4 separate regions of the Homo sapiens genome follow, and all the other regions are reported to be linked to region 3. The links are microRNA targets in miRTarBase. Many come from high-throughput screens and were not tested one by one. Region 3 holds a microRNA gene; each other region holds the end of a gene's coding sequence.

Region 1 (5,058 bases), not on the chromosome of region 3:
AACTAATGGCCAATGAAGCAATGCTGAAGAGCAGAGCAAAAAACTGACAGCAACCACTATTTGGCTCCATCTGCTCCACTGAGGACAATCATTTCCAAATTAAAGAGTGTAAAGAAAAACCTGGTTAGGATTTGAAGTCCAAGAGTGATAAGGGGATAGCAGGAAACACCTGTTTTAAACGAGTTCTCATGAAAGACATGTCAGTCGCTGAAACAACCTGTGGATATGACTGCAGAATTGTTGTCAGAACTCCAGGGAAACAATGAACGAAGTCCAGATACTGATAATCACTGCCCTATTTTCCAAAGTAGATTCTAAAAACTCCAGAATGGTGAACTTAATGTAAAACTCTGGCAAAATCAGGAATAATATAGACGGTGAACATTTGACTCCTAACAATTGCTGATTTCTTTTCAACACTGATTTAACAAAGAAAATGTCACACGAAATAACTTCCTTCCCTTTTTTTGGATAGGATTACTAGAGCAGCCAACCAGGGAAATAACAGTGAAACAATAGCTTACAGCTGAAAGAGACCAGTGGGGTGAGTTGAGATTACAATCCTGAAGTTATCACTTACACTTTACTCTGAGCTAGATGGGGTTCCAAAGGCTTTATATATACAGTATCATTAGTCATCTATTTAATCCTTACAAGGACCCTGTAACATAGAAACTAACATTACTCCTATTTGGCAGAAGAGAAAACTAAGGCAAAGTTTTCTTGCCAAAAGGTCATACAGGTAGGATTTCAACCCAGCCAATGTGGTCTCCAAGTTGTACTTCTCATATTAGTCTACAATGCCCTTCACATGATTAGCAAGGCTGCCAAAAATAGAGGGAGAAATGGGAATCCTCCCTTTTCCATACAAGAAAAAGGACAGCAGAACACATCTGCCCTCTCTCTCGCCTCTTATCCACTCACTTCTCTGACGGGAGGAGGGAAGACTTTGATTGCTGCTTGGGAGGTGCAGCTAAGCACACTTTCTTGGCATGGTAAGGTCATCAGTGTAGAATCTGCCACAAGGGGAGTTTACAATTTAAGGTAGGTAAATTCCAGGACTGATATTTAATATATTTTAATAATCACTTTATCACCAGACCAACCCTCAGAGCAACCACTGGTGTGCTACTGAGCCCTGGTAAGTTAGGTTAATAGAGTTATTAGCAAGGGTTAATTAGAGAGCCACACTGTGGTCTTAGTTTCACCAATCCAGCCTTCTTAGTAAGACACATGCTATTTTGATTCCTACTGGTCTAATTTCCAGTATTTTTTCAATTTGTTCTGAACTTAGAGGGGAAAGACAGGGATATAATTTATTCCCATCAACTCCCCAACAATCCTCTTACACCTTCTGGATAATATCCCAAGTACTAAATGCAGTTTTAGGTGACATTTCTCTGGAGTTCTGACAATTCTGCAGTCACATCCGCAGGTAATTTCAGCAACTAACATGACTTTCATGAGCACTCATTTAAAACGGTATAGGCTTAGTCTTGGCTCTTAGGTGCTTTCTAGTTTAGTACCTAAGAGCCTATACTGGGGACCATATGGTATGAAGTAGATGGAAGGAAGATGGACCATCCATGTCATCTCTCCTGTTGTAGACGTGAATGTACCTGTAAATTCAAAATAAGTAGGGTACGCTGGGAAGGGCCACAATCTGGGACATAAAATGATCTTTGGCAAATAAAATGATTGAGCTTTAGGTCCAAGGGGAGGGGACCTCATTACTCTAGAGTAGAGGTCAGCAAACTATAGGCACAGGCCTTCTGTTTTGTAATTTTTTTTTTTAAAGAGATGGGGTCTCACTCTGTTGCCCAGGCTGGAGTGCAGTCACATGACCCTAGCTCACCGTAACTTCGAACTCATGGGTTCAGGCGATCTTTGGCCTCATCCTCCTGAGTAGCTGGGACTGCTGGTATGTACCACCATGCCCAGTTAATTTTTAAAAATTTTATGTAGAGATGAGGTCTTGCTATGTTTTCCAAGCCTGTAAATAAAGTTTTATTAGAACACAGCCATGCCCATTCATTTACATATTGTCTATGGCTGTTTTTGTGCTCCACGATGGCACAGTCAAGTGGCTGCAACAGGGACTGTATGTCCTGCAAAGCCTGAAATATTTTCCAACTGGTTCTTTCCAGAAAAAAATTTTGCAGAAGACCTATGGTCTAGACCTAGGAAAGTAATTCTAACATTCTCAGGGTAAGGGGAGAGATTGGGGCCAATGGGGAGGAAGGACAAAGGAGCATATTTAGAGCTGGAACCTTTAGTGGGATTACCTGGAGGAGGCAGAGGGGACAGCATTAGGGTGGAACCACCACTATGCCTTATTATGCAGGGTCCTTCCTCATTGAGAACTAAGCAATAATATGGCCTTCCTAACTGAATTATTTATATCCATTTGTGTAAGTTCCTAGACAGTGAATTAAGTGGATTTTTCTCCAGTTCTTCAGAATTGCCAGCACAAAAAATGTAAAATGCAGGCACAGGTAATCAAAAATGTTTTAATGATTACTGTTTAGACATTTAACAATGTAGGTATATCCAGGTGAGCTAAGCACACTTTGACAGCACACTATTGAATGTTATAGTTTCTGTATTGAAATATGTAAAGACATCTGCAAATTAGTACCTAGCAATGAAGACATACATTTATAAATATACACATTCTAGGTTTGATAAGGTAAATGTAAACAGATGCCATGACTCCTTTTCAAACAGAAAACCCACAAGACTAATAGAGAACCAATAGGCTCCCTATAGTACGAATGTGCAAAATTAAAGCATGGTAAACTGATATTTACATAAATATCAAACCAACAATTAGTTTATACATTGTCAATGACCTTCTAAGATATGTCATGAGTGGTTCCAAGAATATCTTTCCCCCAATGGAGAAGGTATTCAGAGGCTAAATTCCGACACTTTAAAATGACACACATCATAGGCTTTACCTGTTTGACCACTGCCTCAAATGTGTGAGATGTGATTTTATGATAAGCAGTCTATTATTTTTAAACAAGAGGTTCTAAACACATCTTTAGATTCTAAGCAGAAAGAAATTACAAGTACTATTAGATTTACATTAAACAAGTTACCTCTATCAAATTTCTCGATTCTCTTATGCTGTAGCTATATTTGATTTTACCTTAAAAAGTTCTAAGGTCCTTTCCCCCCCTTTGTTAATTTTGGTAAACTAGGCACATTTTACAAGGAAATCTGTGTCAAAACAGATAACAGTGCATAAATCAATCCAAATTTAGACCCTGGCAACCAGTTCCCCATTGCTCATCTACGGGACTCTGTCAAACGGTAAATAGGCAATCATCTCTCTTGAAAAGTATACATCCTCTCTCGCACTGGTGGAAAGCAAAATTGACTTTTTGTTTGCTGTATAAAAACACTTAGCACTTCAGAAATTAAAAATGGCCTACTCACCCTACACCCTTCCTAAAATCTCGAGGACAAAGAATATATATTTAAGTTTCATCACGACTGCTGTAGAGCCCCCCCCTTTTTACATTAATAGTGGCACTCAAAATAAAAAAATAAGATCTGTTAAAAAGTTAAACTGACTGTTCCACTAGATTTGAGCCTGCTTGATTCAAAGCCAATAGTACAAAACTGAAGGTGCCGTGTCTGATTTCACATCAACAAGTCACTGGAAATTATGTCACATTAGTTTCATAAATCATGGTCTTTGATTTTTTCTAAACAGAGCTATTACAAATTAATACAAACTTGAAACATACCCTAATTTAAACTAATAAGCTTTGGGCCCTGCTTTTTAAATTTTAAGGCATGTGTGTTTCTCTACCATAACAACATTGTACAAATTTACATTTACAATCACATGCATGATCTACAGTTAAAAAAAAAAGTTTGGATTACAGTGTTTTTAAATTGTGAATCACAATTCAGCACCTATCATGTTATAACTAATAAGGCAACAGCAGTGTTGTATACTATAATAATACTCCCTTTCCACAGTCTAGCGCAGGGGTCAGAGAGCCCAGAAATGTTAGAAATCTTATCCCTACTTATATAATCTGTATACGTTTTCTAGGGGTTTTGAATTGATGAAAGAAGTCCTACATGAATCACACTATTGTAGGCCAGACTAGTTACAGCAGCTGTTAACGAGCATTGGGGCACAACTCATATTGTGCTTACAATCAGATGACGTGGTTTGGAGGGTTTCAATTCTTTGACTTCAATCCTTCCGCAGCTTCCTTGGCTTCACATTGTTTTCCAGGGGTGAAAAGCTGTTGGTGTGTCCATTCACAGCAGCCATGGACCCATTCTGGTGGTCCTTCAGGTGGTCTTTCCTTCGGGAGGCCCCTTTCTTGTTGTAGGTCTAAAATGTGTAAGGGCAGATGAGAACCAAATGACCACAGTTTTCTTTATAGGGAACTTTACTGAGAATTGCATCCCTAACACTAGGCCTAGTTTCAAGATCAAATCTTATCAAGGAGAAACTCCTGAGGTCAAGTCCTCATTGACTAAATCTTTTGTCACTGGTTTCAATCATTCTTCCTTTTTTTTTTTGAGGCTTAGCCTGAGGTAAGTTAACTGAATCACAGGCTGCAACAGAAATACTATTTAAAATGTCACATAGAAAATTCAATTTACACTTTGCTTTGCCTTTTAGTATCTGGATGGCAGATGACAGGGGTTATGTGGCCAAATTGGTCTTTCCCACCTGGCAGCAGCTCTCTTGACACCCACATCCCTTGTTCGTCTTCAAAAGTTCCTCACTGCCTCGGCGACTATCTCAGCCTTCATGAACAAAGTGCTATGCTGCTATAAGTAGTTAGAATAAATGTGATTTCAGCTTCATCGGGTCCTATCCTTTCACCTTCCTTGTAGCTGGTGTATGTCCCACAGTGCAGCCATAAACTATGAAGCCCAGAAGTATATGACTTCCACTGAAACTCAACATGCCACACACAGGTGCTTGTGGGCACAGAAGAAGAAAGGACAAATGTCTGAGCCTCGGGACTTGCAGCCTCTGCCCTTGCTCCTGACCTCCGTGTTTTGCCCAGATCAGCA
Region 2 (5,018 bases), not on the chromosome of region 3:
TGTTCATGTTCAGAAGGTAGCCATAGGCTTCATCTTAGAGCTGGAACCCTTTGAATGAGTGGTAGGCTCCCTTTCCTGTTTGTATCTTTGGGTTCACATAAAGTATAGACCTACTTTAGAACTCAAATTGGTGGCGGAACTAGCTCCTTAAAACGCAGCTGGTTAGCACATTGCCTCATCCTAACAGGCCTCTGCTTCCCCTATGTCCCCTTCGCTTATATTAGCTGCCCTGTGCCCATTCTATCATGTCATTTCCTTTCAGCCTCCACCTCCTGGATGCCCTCCCAATGCTGCTCAGCTTGCAGTCATGCAGGGAGCCAACGTCCTCGTAACTCAGCGGAAGGGGAACTTCTTCATGGGTGGTTCAGATGGTGGCTACACCATCTGGTGAGGAACCAAGGCCACCTCTGTGCCGGGAAAGACATCACATACCTTCAGCACTTCTCACAATGTAACTGCTTTAGTCATATTAACCTGAAGTTGCAGTTTAGACACATGTTGTTGGGGTGTCTTTCTGGTGCCCAAACTTTCAGGCACTTTTCAAATTTAATAAGGAACCATGTAATGGTAGCAGTACCTCCCTAAAGCATTTTGAGGTAGGGGAGGTATCCATTCATAAAATGAATGTGGGTGAAGCCGCCCTAAGGATTTTCCTTTAATTTCTCTGGAGTAATACTGTACCATACTGGTCTTTGCTTTTAGTAATAAAACATCAAATTAGGTTTGGAGGGAACTTTGATCTTCCTAAGAATTAAAGTTGCCAAATTATTCTGATTGGTCTTTAATCTCCTTTAAGTCTTTGATATATATTACTTGTTATAAATGGAACGCATTAGTTGTCTGCCTTTTCCTTTCCATCCCTTGCCCCACCCATCCCATCTCCAACCCTAGTCTTCCATTTCCTCCCGCCAGTCTCCATTGAATCAATGGTGCAGGACAGAAAGCCAGTCAGACTAATTTCCTTCTTTCCTCGCACTTCTCCCCACTCGTCATCTTTTAACTAGTGTTTCACAAGGATCCTCTGAAACCCTCTCTGTGCCCCAAGTACAGATGCCATTACTTCTGCTTTCGTATCTCCTCAGGCAAAAGTGGAGGGTGCCTTATGGGCCCTCCTCATAGGTTGTCTCTGCATACACGAACCTAACCCAAATTTGCTTTGGTGCCAGAAAAACTGAGCTATGTTTGAACAAAGATGTCGTGCAAACTGTACTGTGAACAACAGTTGGTTTAAAATATGAGGGGCAAGGAGGAGGATGCATTTCAAAAGCTTGATTGATGTGTTCAGAGCTAAATTAAGAGGAGTTTTCAGATCAAAAACTGGTTACCATTTTTTGTCAGAGTGTCTGATGCGGCCACTCATTCGGCTCCCCAGAATTCCTAGACTGGGTTAATAGGGTCATATTGTGAATGTCTCACTACAAAATGACTTGAGTCCAGTGAAATCTCATTAGGGTTTAAGAATATTTCAGGGATCCTTAATGTTTTGATTTTTGTTTTCTGAAATTGGATTTTATTTTATTTTATCTTATAATTTCAGTTCATCTAAATTGTGTGTTCTGTACATGTGATGTTTGACTGTACCATTGACTGTTATGGAAGTTCAGCGTTGTATGTCTCTCTCTACACTGTGGTGCACTTAACTTGTGGAATTTTTATACTAAAAATGTAGAATAAAGACTATTTTGAAGATTTGAATAAAGTGATGAAGTTGCATTACACCTCACTGCAAGGATTCTTTACTTAGCTTGTTTTTAGATTTCTTCTATATATATTTTATTTATATCCCATCTAGAATTCAGCTAGGTGCTGCTGCTGCTCTGTTTCCTTTGATGACGCTTTGAAATAAAGGCAGGAGTACAAGCCTAAGACTTGATCATTTCATGAATTCCATTCCAGATGTTCAACTTTTCATCATTTTACTCCAACCTCTTACAAATTTTGGAATTTCGGACCTAAACTTAGAAATGAGGGAACTATTGATTCTCCTAACTTGCTCTAAAGTTTGGCTTGAAGAAAAGGTTCTGGTATAGCAATTTGTATACGTTGAGGATGACCTTTAGTTTCTCCAATGTTCTATGTGGAGAAATACTGAAAACTCATAGAATCTAGGTTGCCAAGATAGATTCCTCAGCTCTTTTATTTATTTTTTGAGACAGGGTCTCCCTCTGTCACCCGGGCTGGAGTGCAGTGGCAGTGTCTGCTCACTGCAACCTCCACCTCCCGGGTTCAAGTGATTCTCCTGTCTCAGCCTCCTGAGTAGCTGGGATTACAGGCACCTGCTACAACACCTGGTTCATTTCTGTACTTTTAGTAGAGACGGCTTCACTGCGTTGGCCACGCTGGTCTCAAACTCCTGACCTCAAGTGATCTGTCTGCCTCAGCCTCCCAAAGTATTGGGATAACAGGCAGTGAGTCACTGCACCCAGCCAGATTCCTCAGCTCTTGATCTTAACTTGGTTGGGTTTGAGCTTGGACAACAGAGGCAATACATTAAGACTTCAAAGGAGATCTAGCTTTAATTCCAAAGTGAACAATATCTGATGAGCTAATAATTTATACCAAAATGTGCCTTTTAAACACAACTTATCTTGAGACTAAAATCCAAGAAGCTTCTTGGCTTGATTCTGAGGATACACTGGGAAAGGTGGTAGGTTGATTTTTTCTGGTTCCTTCTGTATATATGTAGAAGGGATTCTGGGAAATTCTGGCCCTTGCCAGGATGGAGGCTTGAACCAACTCATCTCCCAGGGTACTTTTTTTTTTTTTTTTTTTTTTGAGACGGAGTCTCACTCTGTTGCCCAGGCTGGAGTATAGTGGTGCAATCTCAGCTCACTGCAAGCTCCGCCTCCTGGGTTCAAGCCATTCTCCTGCCTCAGCCTCCCAAGCAGCTGGGACTATGGGCGCCCGCCACCACGCCCAGCTATTTTTTTTATATATTTTTAGTAGAGACGGGGTTTCACCGTGTTAGCCAGGATGGTCTCGATCTCCTAACCTTGTGATCCGCCTGCCTCGGCCTCCCAAAGTGCTGGGATCACAGGCGTGAGCCACCGAACCCGGCCCTCCCAGGGTATGTTTCTAATGATGTTCCCCTGGAACAAGCTTTCCTGCACCATCTTTGTCTCAAATCCCTGAGATAGTTCTGCAAACTTCTAGAACTTTCCTAGGGTTCTTATTGCTTGGAAGAGAACATATGTAAAGGCGTTAAATAGGGAAAAGAAAATGTCAAAAATGTTTAAGCAAAAATAAGTCAAAATGTAGTTACTTCTTGCACATGAGAATCTGATTTCTGTAGCAATGAAAATTTTTAATTTGAATAAAAATCACGTAAGCATGAGGTTGTTGGGGAACACGGAAAGGAAGGGCTCAGATTAGGGGGTGTAGCACATTTATCAGGAGGTAAGATCTCCATAGTCTCCTACCCCTCCTGGCCTGGCCTTTTACTGTGGTATCCAGCCTCTGGGAAGACCTTGTATGGACAGTATCTCCACTGGGGCTATCACTAGGTGACCAGGTAGGGGACAGAGTAGAGCAGCCAATGACCTTAACTCAAAATCTTTTCTCTCCCTTCAACCTGTGAAAAAAGATGACTGGGCACATACTCAGATGTCCCCTGGCATAGCCACATCTTGTTGGCCAGTCACAAACACCAGCTCTAGTAAGAGGGCCTGGTTAAAGATATCATAAACAGCTTTCTCCATGTCCCTGGTCCCTGGAGTCAGTGATGTCGGCATTTGGGACTGCGACCTGGCTGGAGCTTGGATTTGCCCACATCAATCAATGCTTCTCCCTGGCTTCAGAGAAAACTTTCCCATAATAAGCAGTCAACGTGTTAGCGATGGAGCCAGGAATAAGCTCCTTGGGGCCTGGGAGTCATTAGATGAAATATTCCTCTTTCTCGCTGCCCTTGGCCAAGTCACTCTCCATCTGGACGATGGCACTGGGCTCACCTTCTGTAGGTTCATAGGTGACGTAGCTGCCTTTGTTCTTGTACAGGTAAAAGAAGATCAAGATCACGACCGAGAGCAGGGTGAGGAAGACAACGGTGATAACAACTTGGAAAGGAGAGGGAAAATGTAGAGATGTTTCAGGATTGAGGATGTCTCAGTAGTTCCTGGAGTCATCTGATTTAGTCACTGTTTTCGTAAAGATCCTCTTGTTTTCATTAACTAGTGTCCACTTCCATCCAAACCCATGTTCCCCCACCAACCCCAATTTCCATGGCACATAATAGCTGGAGTCTCCTGGTGCTTAAGCTAAGGACACATGCTTTTGATTTCTGACAAAACTGAACTGCCTCCCAAACCAGTTCCTGATTCTTAAAGAAACGGGAAGGAGGGAACAGGAAATGGCTTATCCTAACAGGAAGTGGTTTATCTGATCCTCCCCCTCTTCCTCACCCACTCAACCAACCACATATATCCTCGTCCCTACCCACGTACTCAAGTGTAACGTCCGTATGCATATCTATTTGCGGCCACCTCCCAACCTGTCATTTACTGGTAGTGCCTCTGACAGAAGCCTCCGAGTCTTTTATGGCTGTGTGTGTGTGTGTGTGTGTGTGTGTGTGTGTGTAATATAACTTACAAGCCAGAGTGAGCCCATTAATGGATTTGGTCAGGCTCCCTCTGGAGAGAGATGCCCTTGATCCAGAAGGTCCCTTGGAGTTGGCTCAGAGTCTATTACCTGCAATGAGTGCTGTGCTGGCTCCATCTTCTGGGGACAGGGCCTCAGTGGGCTGTAAAATTGGGGTGGTCATCAGTTCTTCTGGAAAATGTAGAAAAGTGGAAAAGGAAATGGAGTGAATTCTTTTGTTTGAAAGCATATGTTTGGCCTTCAAATTTCACCACCCCACCTTCTTCCCTATTCAAAAGTTTATCATTTAACTCCTAGAGTATATCCAAATAGAAAATCCTAGAGAATAAAGAAGAAAATAAACCACCACCCAAAGACAATATGTTGATGGATTTCTCCCTGCATAATATAGTGATTAAGAGTAGGGGCTATAGAGCCTGACAGAC
Region 3 (4,884 bases):
TTGTGGAAGCGTCACCTTGTCCTCCTTGCATCACGTCTGTGCCCACATTTCCCCTTCTACACAGACGCCAAGCAGAATTTAGGGCCCACCCTGACAACCCCTTTTTACTTCACTTTATTATTTTATTTGCTTATTTTTTGAGACAGGGTCTTGGTATGTCGCCCAGGCTGGAGTGCAGTGGTGCAATCTCGGCTCCCTGTAACTTCCCCCTCTCGGGTTCAAGTGATTCTCCTGCCTCAGCCTCCCGAGTAGCTGGTACTACAGGCACGCGCCACCATGCCCAGCTAATTTTTGTATTTTTAGTAGAGACGGGGTTTCGCCATATTGGCCAGGCTGCTCTCGAACTCCTGACCTCAGGTGATCCTCCCACCTCGGCCTCCCAAAGTGCTGGGATTACGGTCTTGAGCCACCGTACCCGGCCCTCTTTATTTTTGAGACAGGATCTTTTGTTTCCGAGGCTGGAGTGCAGTGGCGTGATCACAGCTCACTGCAGCCTCAACCCCCTTGGCTCAAGCAGTCCTCCCACTTCTGACTCCGGAGTGGCTGGGCCTACAAGGCCCCACCACCACACCTGGCTAATTTTTGTTTTTGTAGAGATGGGGATTTTGCCATGTCACCCAGGCTGGTCTCGAACTCCTGAGCTCAAGCAATCCTCCCACCTTGGCCTCTCAAAGCGCTGGGATTATAGGCATGAGCCACCGCACCTGGCGACAACCTCATTTTGACTAGTTTATATGCAAAGACCCTGTTTATATACAGGGCCATACTCATGGGTTCTGGGGGGTCAGGACATGAACACATCTTTGTGGGGGCCAGAGAAGGGACAGTTTATGGGCAATGGCAAGAGGAAGCTGCTTGTGGCTGTGGGTAGGACCGACCACAGGTGTTCCATCCCCAGGCTTCATTGAGGACCCTGAGAGGAAGTATCACTTTGAGTGCAGCAGCGAGGAGCAGTGTCAGGAGTGGATGGAGGCTCTGCGTCGGGCCAGGTGGGGCCAGGCGGTGGTGGGCACTGCTGGGGTGGGCACAGCAGCCATGCAGAGCGGGCATTTGACCCCGTGCCACCCTTTTCCCCAGCTACGAGTTCATGCGGAGAAGCCTCATCTTCTACAGGAACGAAATCCGGAAGGTGACGGGCAAGGTGTGTGCAGGGCTGCAGAGGGCCGGGGTGGGGCTGCAGGTGGCAGAGGCAGTCCTCCAGCCCTGGCTCATGGCCACCCGTCCTCCCCACAGGACCCCCTGGAACAGTTCGGCATATCCGAGGAGGCCAGGTTCCAGCTGAGTGGCTTGCAGGCGTGAGCGCAGGGCACGGTGGTCAGCGTGCAGCGGGACGGGACTGGCCCTGCCCAGCCATGAATCGCTTGGCCATGCCTGGATCTGTTTTGTTTTGGTTTTTGGTTTTTGGGTCAGGGTTTCACTGTGTTGCCCAGGCTAGAGTGCAGTGGTGCCACAGCTCACTGTGACCTTGACCTTCTGGACTCAAGTGATCCTCCTGCCTCAGCTTCCCAAGTAGCGGGGATCACAGGCATGAGCCGCCACACCCGGCCATCACACCTGGATTTTCAGTGGGAGGTTTTTGGTTTGGAGACATCCAAAGCCTGAAGCCAGGTGGGTGTGGGCAGGGGCTGCATTTTATGAAACTGCCCAGCAAGCTGCGCTCCCTGGGGCCCCAGGATCCACCTAACTGGCCTGGCACCTGGTGCCACGTGCTGCTGCCGCCAGGATATGCGCCTTCCCACAGGTGCCCTGCCTGAGTTGTGTGCATCCAGGGGCCTGGTGAGCCCCCAGGCTGGTGGCATGGCCCCCCTGCCCCGTGCTGAATGAATGTACAGAGCCAGACAAAGCTGTGAATGGCCTAGGGGCTGAGTCCCACACCAGCTGTGAATTCTCCTGCAGACAGGAGGGCCCTGGCTGTGCACCTGGGGAAGTGGTTGCCCTGGGGCCAGGGTGCTTGTTCTGTTCAAATAAAGGTACCTCTTTTCCACACTGGATGGCGGTGAAGTGAAGGAGAGGGGAGGGGCAGCCAGGGAGCCCCCACCCAAGGGAAGTAAGGCTCAGGGTCCTGAGAGGCAGTGGCTGGGCCTCCTGCACTGAGGGGAGAGCTAGAACCCCCAGCCAGGACAGGTGGAGGCTGGGACCCAGGCCTGGGGAGAACAGAGCTGCTGTGTGGTATCAGGAATCCTGTGGTGACCTGGGGTCCTGCCTCTGGCATTCACGGGCCCTCCCGGAGTGTGGCTGGGGCCTGGGCGGGCTTTGGTCCATCTGATGTGAAAAGGACTTTGCCGATGTCATTGGGGTCGCAGATCTGGTTTTCCGTTCATCAAAAGGCACTTTGCCTGTGGCCTGGTGCCCTCATAAGCCTCCCCTTGCCTGTGGCCTGGTGCCCTCATAAGCCTCCCCAAGGCCAGGGTGTCCTGGTGTCAGCCCCCGGAGCTTCTGCTAGGAGCACCCCTAGGCCCTCCACTCCCCGTTTCGGCGATGACACACTAGCCGGGGCCTCTCACTGGCCGCCAGGAGACGCCTCATGCCACCTGGAAGAAAGGCTGCCATTCACACCAGGTCCGAGTGAAAACAGTCTGTTTATTACAGCGTCTAGAGGTGGGGATGCAGAATGCAGGGGTGCCCAGAGGAAGGGGCGCCTGCAGCCCAGGGGCGGACCGTGACAATGCGCGCAATCCAAATACAGTTCACCCGGAAGACACGGCAGAGCCTCCCACGTTACAAAGGCTGACACAGACCAGCAGCGTGTTGTGTTGGGAGGGGGGTCTGACCACGATGGCGAGGGCAGTCGGCGGGGGGTGGGGGGCCTGCTGACCACTGAACAGACTGACGCATCCTGGGGGCAGATAAATTAAGGGGGAAGTCTTAAATAAGTCACTGTGCGTGCCTCATGGGCCGAGGAGGGGGTATCCTAGTTTTTAGGGTTCCTATCAATTCCTGAGCAAGAGCCACTCCCAGGCGCCGCCCGCCCACCCACAGTCAGCAGCAGCAGCACAGGTCCCCGCCAGCTGCCCACGGAAACTCAGGCCAGGTGCCAGCACCAGGCTCCAGATCCCCAGTCTCCACAGCCACCCTGCCACCCGCCACACACCACCCCTCAGTCTGGGAGTGTCTGAGAAGAACACAGGCCCAGGGCTCAGAACAGGAGGGTGTCCGCAGGCAGCCACCACACTAGTTCACGTGTGGTGACACGCATATGACCCAGTGGGCTCAAGGAGACTTCTGCCTGGGCCAGTGGCTCTGAGACCCAGTGCGTGTCCTGAACATACGGTGGCCTGCGTGGGCAGGAGCCCTGCATGGCCATCTGCAGGACCCGTGATGGCACCCGGACTGCCACTGTCACCTAGAGGGAGGCAGAAGTAATACAGTGTTTAAAGAATGTGTCTTGTTCTAGACCAGGGACTCGGCCGTCTCTGCCATCAACCCTGTGGCGTATCCGGCCCGTGGCGACACAGAGCAGGCTGCCTGTCCTGAAGGCCAGGCTCGGGGCTTGGGGCTCAGGCAGAGGCACAGCACCTTCTAGCTGAGAGCACCAACGTGGGGTGGGGAGGGCACTGGGCACCACTTAAGAGGACAGGTCCGGAGCACCATCTTCAGAACTCAGCTATGTTGGAGGGTGGGGGTCTGAGAGGTTGTTGGGGGCTGGGGGAGGCAGCACCCCCCTCACCAGGCACAAGCAGGGGTCTTCAGGCCCTCCCACACAGGACTCCCCCACCTAGCAACCACAGAAGCCTTTCCTCCGTGGCTCCCTTTGGAGGCCACGTGGTAGGGATGTGACGTGTGTCCATCCTGCCCTTGGGAACCAGAACACAGGGCTGGCAGCTCCCTGGAGGGTGGATCTGTGGCACCTTGGGGAAGGGGCTCCCCGATGCCATCTCACAGGAGCAAGCACTTGAGAAGGTGGGCTCAGCAAGTGCCACACAGCCCAGGGCCAGATGCGGGGAGCTCAGACTCCCAGATCCCATCCTCCAGGGAGGGCACAGAGCCACCACTGCTCAGACAACCCAGGCCCTGACTGCTCAGGGCTCCAGAAGCACTGGAGTGGCCCTGCCTGCCTGCTACACCCCGGCCTCAGCTCCTCTCCTTCCACACCCAGTCCCAGGCACCCGCCAAGGCTGCAGAGTGGGGGGCCGACGTCACCCTGGGGCCTAGGGCCAGAGAGGCCAGGTTTCAGCAGTGCACCCTGGCCCCAGCACACCCACAGCAGCTGGGAGAACCAGCACAGGCTCCAAGGGATGGGTGCCAGGCGTGGCCCTGACAGGAAGGGATGTGGGGCAGGCAGGGGCGCCGGCAGCTCTGTCTGGGCTGCTGGGAGCTGCAACTGAGGGGTCTAGGGTCGGGGCTGACGCTGGGGCCATTTTGTGCACTGTTTGAATAAATAAGGTTTTTTCCCCTCGCTTTTCTTTCCTCTTCACTGTGCATTATACCATCTAAAAATAAAAGCTGTCAAATCTATGAAATTTATAAATTCTCATCACATCTCTATAAAATACTGCCACTCATTAGTGTGACTCTCTCCTGTACAGAAACACCAAGGGACCCACGACAGGCCTGCCCCGCATCGCAGGGCATGCTGCGAGCCATGGACAGCCGAGAAATACAAAAGTAAATGCACTTGTTCAACGTGCCCGCGCCGTCCTCACAGCACCATCGCGCAGCACATGGCCAGCTGCGTCACCGCGCAGGCCCCTTCACATGCAAGGGCGCAACCCACGCCCCGGAGGGTGAACAGTCTGGGGGTTCACAGTGCCGGGGTAAAGGTGAAGAGCTCAGGGCAGGCGCCAGGGCGCTCAGGAAGGGGCTCAGGCCGCGGGGAGGCCTCCGAGGAATGTGGTGGCGACGGGCCTGCCTTTGGTACGGGAGCAGCGCGTCGGGGGAGCCGGC
Region 4 (5,058 bases), not on the chromosome of region 3:
ATGTCTTGCACTTTGATGATGAACTCTGATGGGGGCTCCAGGGGCCGGTTGGAGGCTCGGTCCACGGCTTGGGCCAGTAGCACATATTGCGCCTTTTCCTCCCGGTCAAGGCTCTTGGTAACATGAATATTGCCTGTGGCCTCATCAATCACAAATACGGTGCCTGCCCCCTCCCCGGTCAACAGGTACTTGGTGCGGCCCTCTCCCCGGTCAACATCCGAGTGCAGCTGCAGGGGTCACGAAAAGATGGCAGAGGGCTCCAAGTACAGAGACAGGGTTAAAGAGTCTAGGTTTGGGTAGAGCGTTGGGAGTCCTGAGGGACCAAGGTCATTGCAGAAGTGATGAAGTTGCAGGGCAGGGCCTGAGGGCTTGGTGTCAGAGTAGACATGGGAGGGGTCATCCTTACCTTGCCAATGAGAACAGGCTCTGGACCAGCATATTCCTCAATGACAAAGAACTGGTTCCAGACCCAGCTCCTTCGAGTCCGCAGCAGAGCAGGCCCTGGGTGTTCCCGGGACCCTGCCCAGGCCCGGGCTGGGGCTGCCAGACGCCCCATGCAGCCCCAGCCACCCAGCCAGGCCAGCAGGAGCCTCACCAGGCCCCACATGTTTGGACTCCAGCCAGGGCTCTGTTCACTGGCCCTGGGTGCTGAGGCTGGGCCAGGCCACGTGGCCCATGAGCTGGCTGGGGTGGAGGGGCAGATGCGTTGAGGCTACCCCATGGATCCACACCTGCAGGACAAGCAGCTGCTCAGGCTCAAGGAAACCCCTAGCCCTCCTCCCCCGCAAAATTAGATGCTGAAGACCAGACCTCCAAGGAACCAGACACTCCACTGCCCAGAACTCAGACTAAGACAGAGAGCAGAGAGGCTGATCCTTCCTCCACCCAGGCTCTGCATGTATTCACCTCCAGCCCTCCAAGCTGATAAATCTCTGGTCAGTCAACTCTGAGTAGAGAACTGGGGAGGAACACAGGAGAGGGGATGCTGGGAGGGCTTGGAATCCCAAATCTGGTCTCTGTCCTCCCAGGTTGGGCACGTAGCCAGGTATTGGAGGAGGCGGGGCTACCAGAGAAAGGGCTTAAAATTACGGAGTTGGGATTCATGGAGGTGTGGCCTTAAGGTGTCTAGGGTCAGCATGAGATGACAAGGAGTGCAGCCTCAGGCAGGGCTGAGAGTCTGTGAAAGTCCCTCCCCACAAGGGGGAGCCCCACTCTCCAGGCCCTGTCTCCAGCCCACGCTGCCAGTGCAGTCCTTGAAGGGGGACTGGGCTCGTGAGACAGGAGTTGGGAGCCAGAGCTGAAGGAAGAGGATACAGGGTGGGGGACAGGGGGAGGTGACCGGGGAGAGAGGTCCACCCAGAGGCTAGAGACAGATAATGACTGACGGCTAGACTGACTCAGGGACTGTCCGGCAGAGAAATGACTGGATGAGAGACAGAAACAGAACAGTGGCAAGAGACAGAATGAGAGAGACCAGGGCAGCAGCCTGGGTGTCTGAAGGCAGAGAGGAGTCCTAGGGGCCAGGCTTGGAAACGGGTCACCGGGGGCAGTTCCGGGCAGGCAGGGGCAGACCTCAGCTTCGGGGGTGTCAAGCCAGGCCTCGGGAACTTAATTCTGGGAGAAGGAGCAGACAGGAGGGGTGGAGGCAGGGAGGGGCCACGGGAAGGGAGCTAGAGAGGAGACCCTTCCCACTGCTCTCCTTTCTCCTAGGGGCGGGGGGGAGGACCCCTCAGGTAGCTGTGGCTTCTGCCCCTCCTCCCTCAGAGCAGACACACACCTGACAGTCCCTTTGCTCCCGAGGGAAGGGGGAAACCGGAGGAAGGCTGGGGACCAGAGAGAAGGCGGGATGAGGAGGCGAGAAGGAAGGGGATAGAGGAGTGGGAAACAGGATAGCAGGAAGGGGAGAGGAGAGGGAGGGAAAGGAGAGCAAGAAAGAGAAAAGAGAAAGGCAGGAAAGGGGAGAAAGGTAGAGAAAGAAAAAGGCAAAGAGGGAGAGGAGATGGAAAAAGGACAAGAGGGAGAGGGAAGGGTTGGGGAGACAGAGGGAAGGGATAAGGAAGGCAAACAGGCAGAGAAGGAAGGGTGAAGAGAAATCGAGAGAAGAAAGAGGGAGAGAGGTGCGAGGGGAGAAGGGAAAGAGGCAGAGCGCGGGAGAAGGGAGCCGGCAGCGGGCTCCCAGCCACGGAGCGCACCCCTCCGAAGACCCCCGCAGGCTGCGGGCCCCCTCCTACCCCTCCGCGGATTCCCGACCCCTGCTCCGGGGCAGGCGCCCTTACCTGGCACTGCCGAGGGGCCCAGGCCGGCGGGAAGCGCCCCCGCCCGCCCCCGTCGCCGGGTCCCGGGGGCACAGCCCCGAGCCGATTGGAGCGGGCGCCGCGGCTCCGCTGCAGGTCTGAGCGGCCCCGGCGAGAACAAGGGAGCGAGACGGAGGGGGCGGGGGAAGAAGACTCCGCCTGCGGAGGAGCGAGGCGGCTCCGCGCCGCGCGGGAGAGGAGAGCCCAGCCTCCGACCCTCCCCGGCCAGCCGGGCCCGCGCGGCGGGGGCGGGGGCGGAGGCGGCGCCGCGCGTCCGCCCCCTCGGCGCTCCTGGGCTGCGGGGCGCATACAGATGCGGCGCCCCTCCCGGACCGGGCCCGCAGCGCCCGGCAGGGCACTCGGGCGGGAGGACGTCCAGGCCACGGCGCCAGGCCATTTCCGAAGAGCTGGCGGGGCGGGTGCACCCGGGAGCGCGAAGCTGCCAGTCCCCGCCCGCAGCGGAAAACGGGCGAGCGCGCGGTGAGGTGGGGAATTCGGAGCCCACTGCGGAGAGACCCGGCTCCGGGCTCCCGGTTCCCGGCTGGCTTTTGGGACTGGTGTGGATGGAATCCCAGCTGCAAGGCGGCGGCGTTTTGAGAGCCCATGCAAAGCACGGTAGCAGGTCAGCTGGGGGACACTTAAGGACGGCAGAAGGGTCCAGAGAGTCCGAGGCCCGGGCCCAGGGAGCGGGTCGGGAACAGAGGCACGACATCGGCGGGAGGTCGGAGGCGGGCAGTGGAACCCTTCTTGGGAAGCTCGGTTACAGGGGCCAACAGAGCGAGGAGCTGCCGCCCCCTGGTGGTAGTTGTGGGAGGCACCAAGGTGGCAGGCAGGTGACCAAACCCCTAATTTAACCGTGCACAGGACCAGGAACCAGAAGAGGACCCACCCTCCTAGCCCTGCTGGGGTGCCGCCACGGACACAGGTTGCTCCATGCCTTCCCGAATGAGGAAGGTCCACAGCTTTGGGTTGGTCAGGGCCAAGGCAGGGGATAAAAGACGTGGGAAGTTCAATAAGCAGGAAGCAGTCAGCCTAAAGGAACACATGGAATGAGAGCAACTCCTACTCCAGATATCCTCAGATGTCCACGCTCAGATATCCACAGTGGCTTCTTAACCTGCCCAAAGAAAGCCACTCACACAGTTTAAAACTAAGTCAGATTTTTATTTTTTTTTCCATAGACCACATCATTTAATAATAAAAAAAATAAAAATAAAAATTGAACAAAAGGAAAAGGTGGATATAAAGTGGAACCTGTGGGAAAGAGGCAAGGGCTGCAGGACAGAAGAGACTGGGAACTGCAGGGGCCCTGGGACTCAGGAGGAGATGCTGATTCAGCTCATAGGTGACCCAGTCCTGGCCCCGGCTGTTCCCAAGAGAAGGCTGTAAGTACCCAGGGAGGTGGTAAGCAGGATGGAGGAAAAATCAGAGGACTGGGGCACCTGGCTGTTCCCCATCTCTGGCCAACCACCTCCTTGCCTAACCTAGCTCTTGCCTCTCAGACTTAATGGGAAATGAGAGGGAGGGTCGGGCTAAGTCCCAAGAGATAGGTTAAGGGGGTGTGTTTGGGGGGAAAAGGATGGCCACTTTTCCATTTGGTATGTATGTAGGGATAGGTGATGTGAAAGACCCTTGGCTCCAGGGTGGTGGAGACTGTGCCTATCCCTCTGTGGCCATAACCCCCTGGGGCCGAGTGGCTGGTACCTGCAGCTCTAGTGTTTTCCCAGCTAGCGGCGCCCACCCCGGTCCCGCACAGGTGTGCTCCGACTCCGGCTTCTGCTGTGGCGCTTGGTGTCCCTGCGATCCCTTTCCCTGCCTCGTTCTCGGTCCCTTTCCCTATCCCGATCTCGGTCCCCCCTGTCCCGCTCCCTTTCTCTCTCTCTCTCCCTGTCCCTCTCCCGACTGTGCTCCCGACGTTTCTCTCGCTCCAGCTGTCGGTTCCGTTCCCGCTCGGCTTCCTTCTCCCGCTCCTTTTGCTCTTCTTCTTCTTGCTCCTTTCGCCGCTTCTCCCGCTCCTTGGCCCGTTCGGCCCGCTCTGCCTCTTTCTGAACGATCTGTAGCCAGGTAGGAAAGGCAGAGAATAGGCAGCTCAGTCCTGGTCACAGCCTCCATTTGTGCCTGGACCCTGCCTCCTAGCTCAGGGTCAGCTTTTCAGTTAAACAGGAAGGGGTTGGGGGCTCAACAACTGCATCCTGTCTTTCTTAGAGCACCTCTCTCCCTCCTAGTTTCAGCCTTTTTTTTTTTTTTTCTGAGACGGAGTCTCGCTCCGTCGCCCAGGCTGGGAGTGCAGTGGCACGATCTCGGCTCACTGCAAGCTCCACCTCCCGGGTTCACACCATTCTCCTGCCTCAGCCTGCTGAGCAGCTGGGACCACAGGCGCCCGCGACCACGCCCGGCTAATTTTTTTGTATTTTCAGTAGAGACGGGGCTTCACCGTTGTTAGCCAGGATGGTCTTGATCTCCTGACCTCGTGATCCGCCCGCCTCAGGCTCCCAAAGTGCTGGGATTACAGGCGTGAGCCACCGCGCCCCGCCAGTTTTTTTTTTTTTTTTTTTTTGAGACAGTCTCACTCTGTCGCCCAGGCTGGAGTGCAGTGGTGCTATCTTGGCTCACTGTGGTCTCCGACTCGCAGGTTCAAGTGATTCTCCTGCCTCAGCCTCCCTAGTAGCTGGGATTACAGGTGTCTGCCACCATGCCCCACTAAGTTTTGTATTTTTAGTAGAGATGGGGTTTCACCATGTTGGCCAGGATGGTATCAAACTCC

Evidence for each region. The annotated mature microRNA hsa-miR-1227-5p reads GUGGGGCCAGGCGGUGG and lies in region 3 at 990-1,006, shown strand. An mRNA with a match to its seed (bases 2 to 7 or 8) in the 3' UTR can be bound and repressed. Matches are read on the target gene's strand: a 7mer-m8 pairs with bases 2 to 8, a 7mer-A1 pairs with bases 2 to 7 and ends in A, and an 8mer does both.
Region 1: miRTarBase lists ELOVL5 as a target of hsa-miR-1227-5p. Seed matches in the 3' UTR shown: 7mer-A1 at 4,153-4,159.
Region 2: miRTarBase lists DAZAP2 as a target of hsa-miR-1227-5p. Seed matches in the 3' UTR shown: 7mer-A1 at 1,038-1,044.
Region 4: miRTarBase lists ACIN1 as a target of hsa-miR-1227-5p. Seed matches in the 3' UTR shown: 7mer-m8 at 3,979-3,985.

Annotation. Positions count from the first base shown.
Region 1 is chr6:53,264,908-53,269,965 of GRCh38, forward strand. It overlaps ELOVL5 (ELOVL fatty acid elongase 5), which reads right to left. Exons shown (of 8, transcript NM_021814.5): 8 at 2,497-4,363. The coding sequence ends at 4,220. Among named protein-coding and RNA genes, the nearest start is that of MIR5685, 9.6 kb to the right of the region's middle.
Region 2 is chr12:51,242,068-51,247,085 of GRCh38, forward strand. DAZAP2 (DAZ associated protein 2) reads left to right here. Exons shown (of 4, transcript NM_014764.4): 4 at 263-1,866. The coding sequence ends at 391. SMAGP (small cell adhesion glycoprotein) reads right to left here. Exons shown (of 4, transcript NM_001031628.2): 3 at 4,684-4,764; 4 at 2,491-4,052. The coding sequence ends at 3,874. Among named protein-coding and RNA genes, the nearest start is that of DAZAP2, 5.8 kb to the left of the region's middle.
Region 3 is chr19:2,230,255-2,235,138 of GRCh38, reverse strand. It overlaps MIR1227 (microRNA 1227), which reads left to right and starts at 990; the gene lies at 990-1,077. It overlaps DOT1L (DOT1 like histone lysine methyltransferase), which reads right to left. Exons shown (of 28, transcript NM_032482.3): 28 at 2,561-4,884. PLEKHJ1 (pleckstrin homology domain containing J1) reads left to right here. Exons shown (of 6, transcript NM_018049.3): 4 at 899-989; 5 at 1,078-1,141; 6 at 1,234-1,986. The coding sequence ends at 1,299. RefSeq lists enhancers at 1-3, 6-585.
Region 4 is chr14:23,055,127-23,060,184 of GRCh38, forward strand. It overlaps ACIN1 (apoptotic chromatin condensation inducer 1), which reads right to left. Exons shown (of 19, transcript NM_001386863.1): 19 at 3,438-4,348. The coding sequence ends at 4,022. It overlaps CDH24 (cadherin 24), which reads right to left and starts at 2,394. Exons shown (of 13, transcript NM_144985.4): 1 at 2,277-2,394; 2 at 407-731; 3 at 1-227. The coding sequence starts at 607. It overlaps LOC105370705 (collagen alpha-2(I) chain-like), which reads left to right and starts at 2,534. Exons shown (of 2, transcript NR_169511.1): 1 at 2,534-2,916; 2 at 3,159-3,523. RefSeq lists silencers at 2,274-2,393, 2,474-2,623.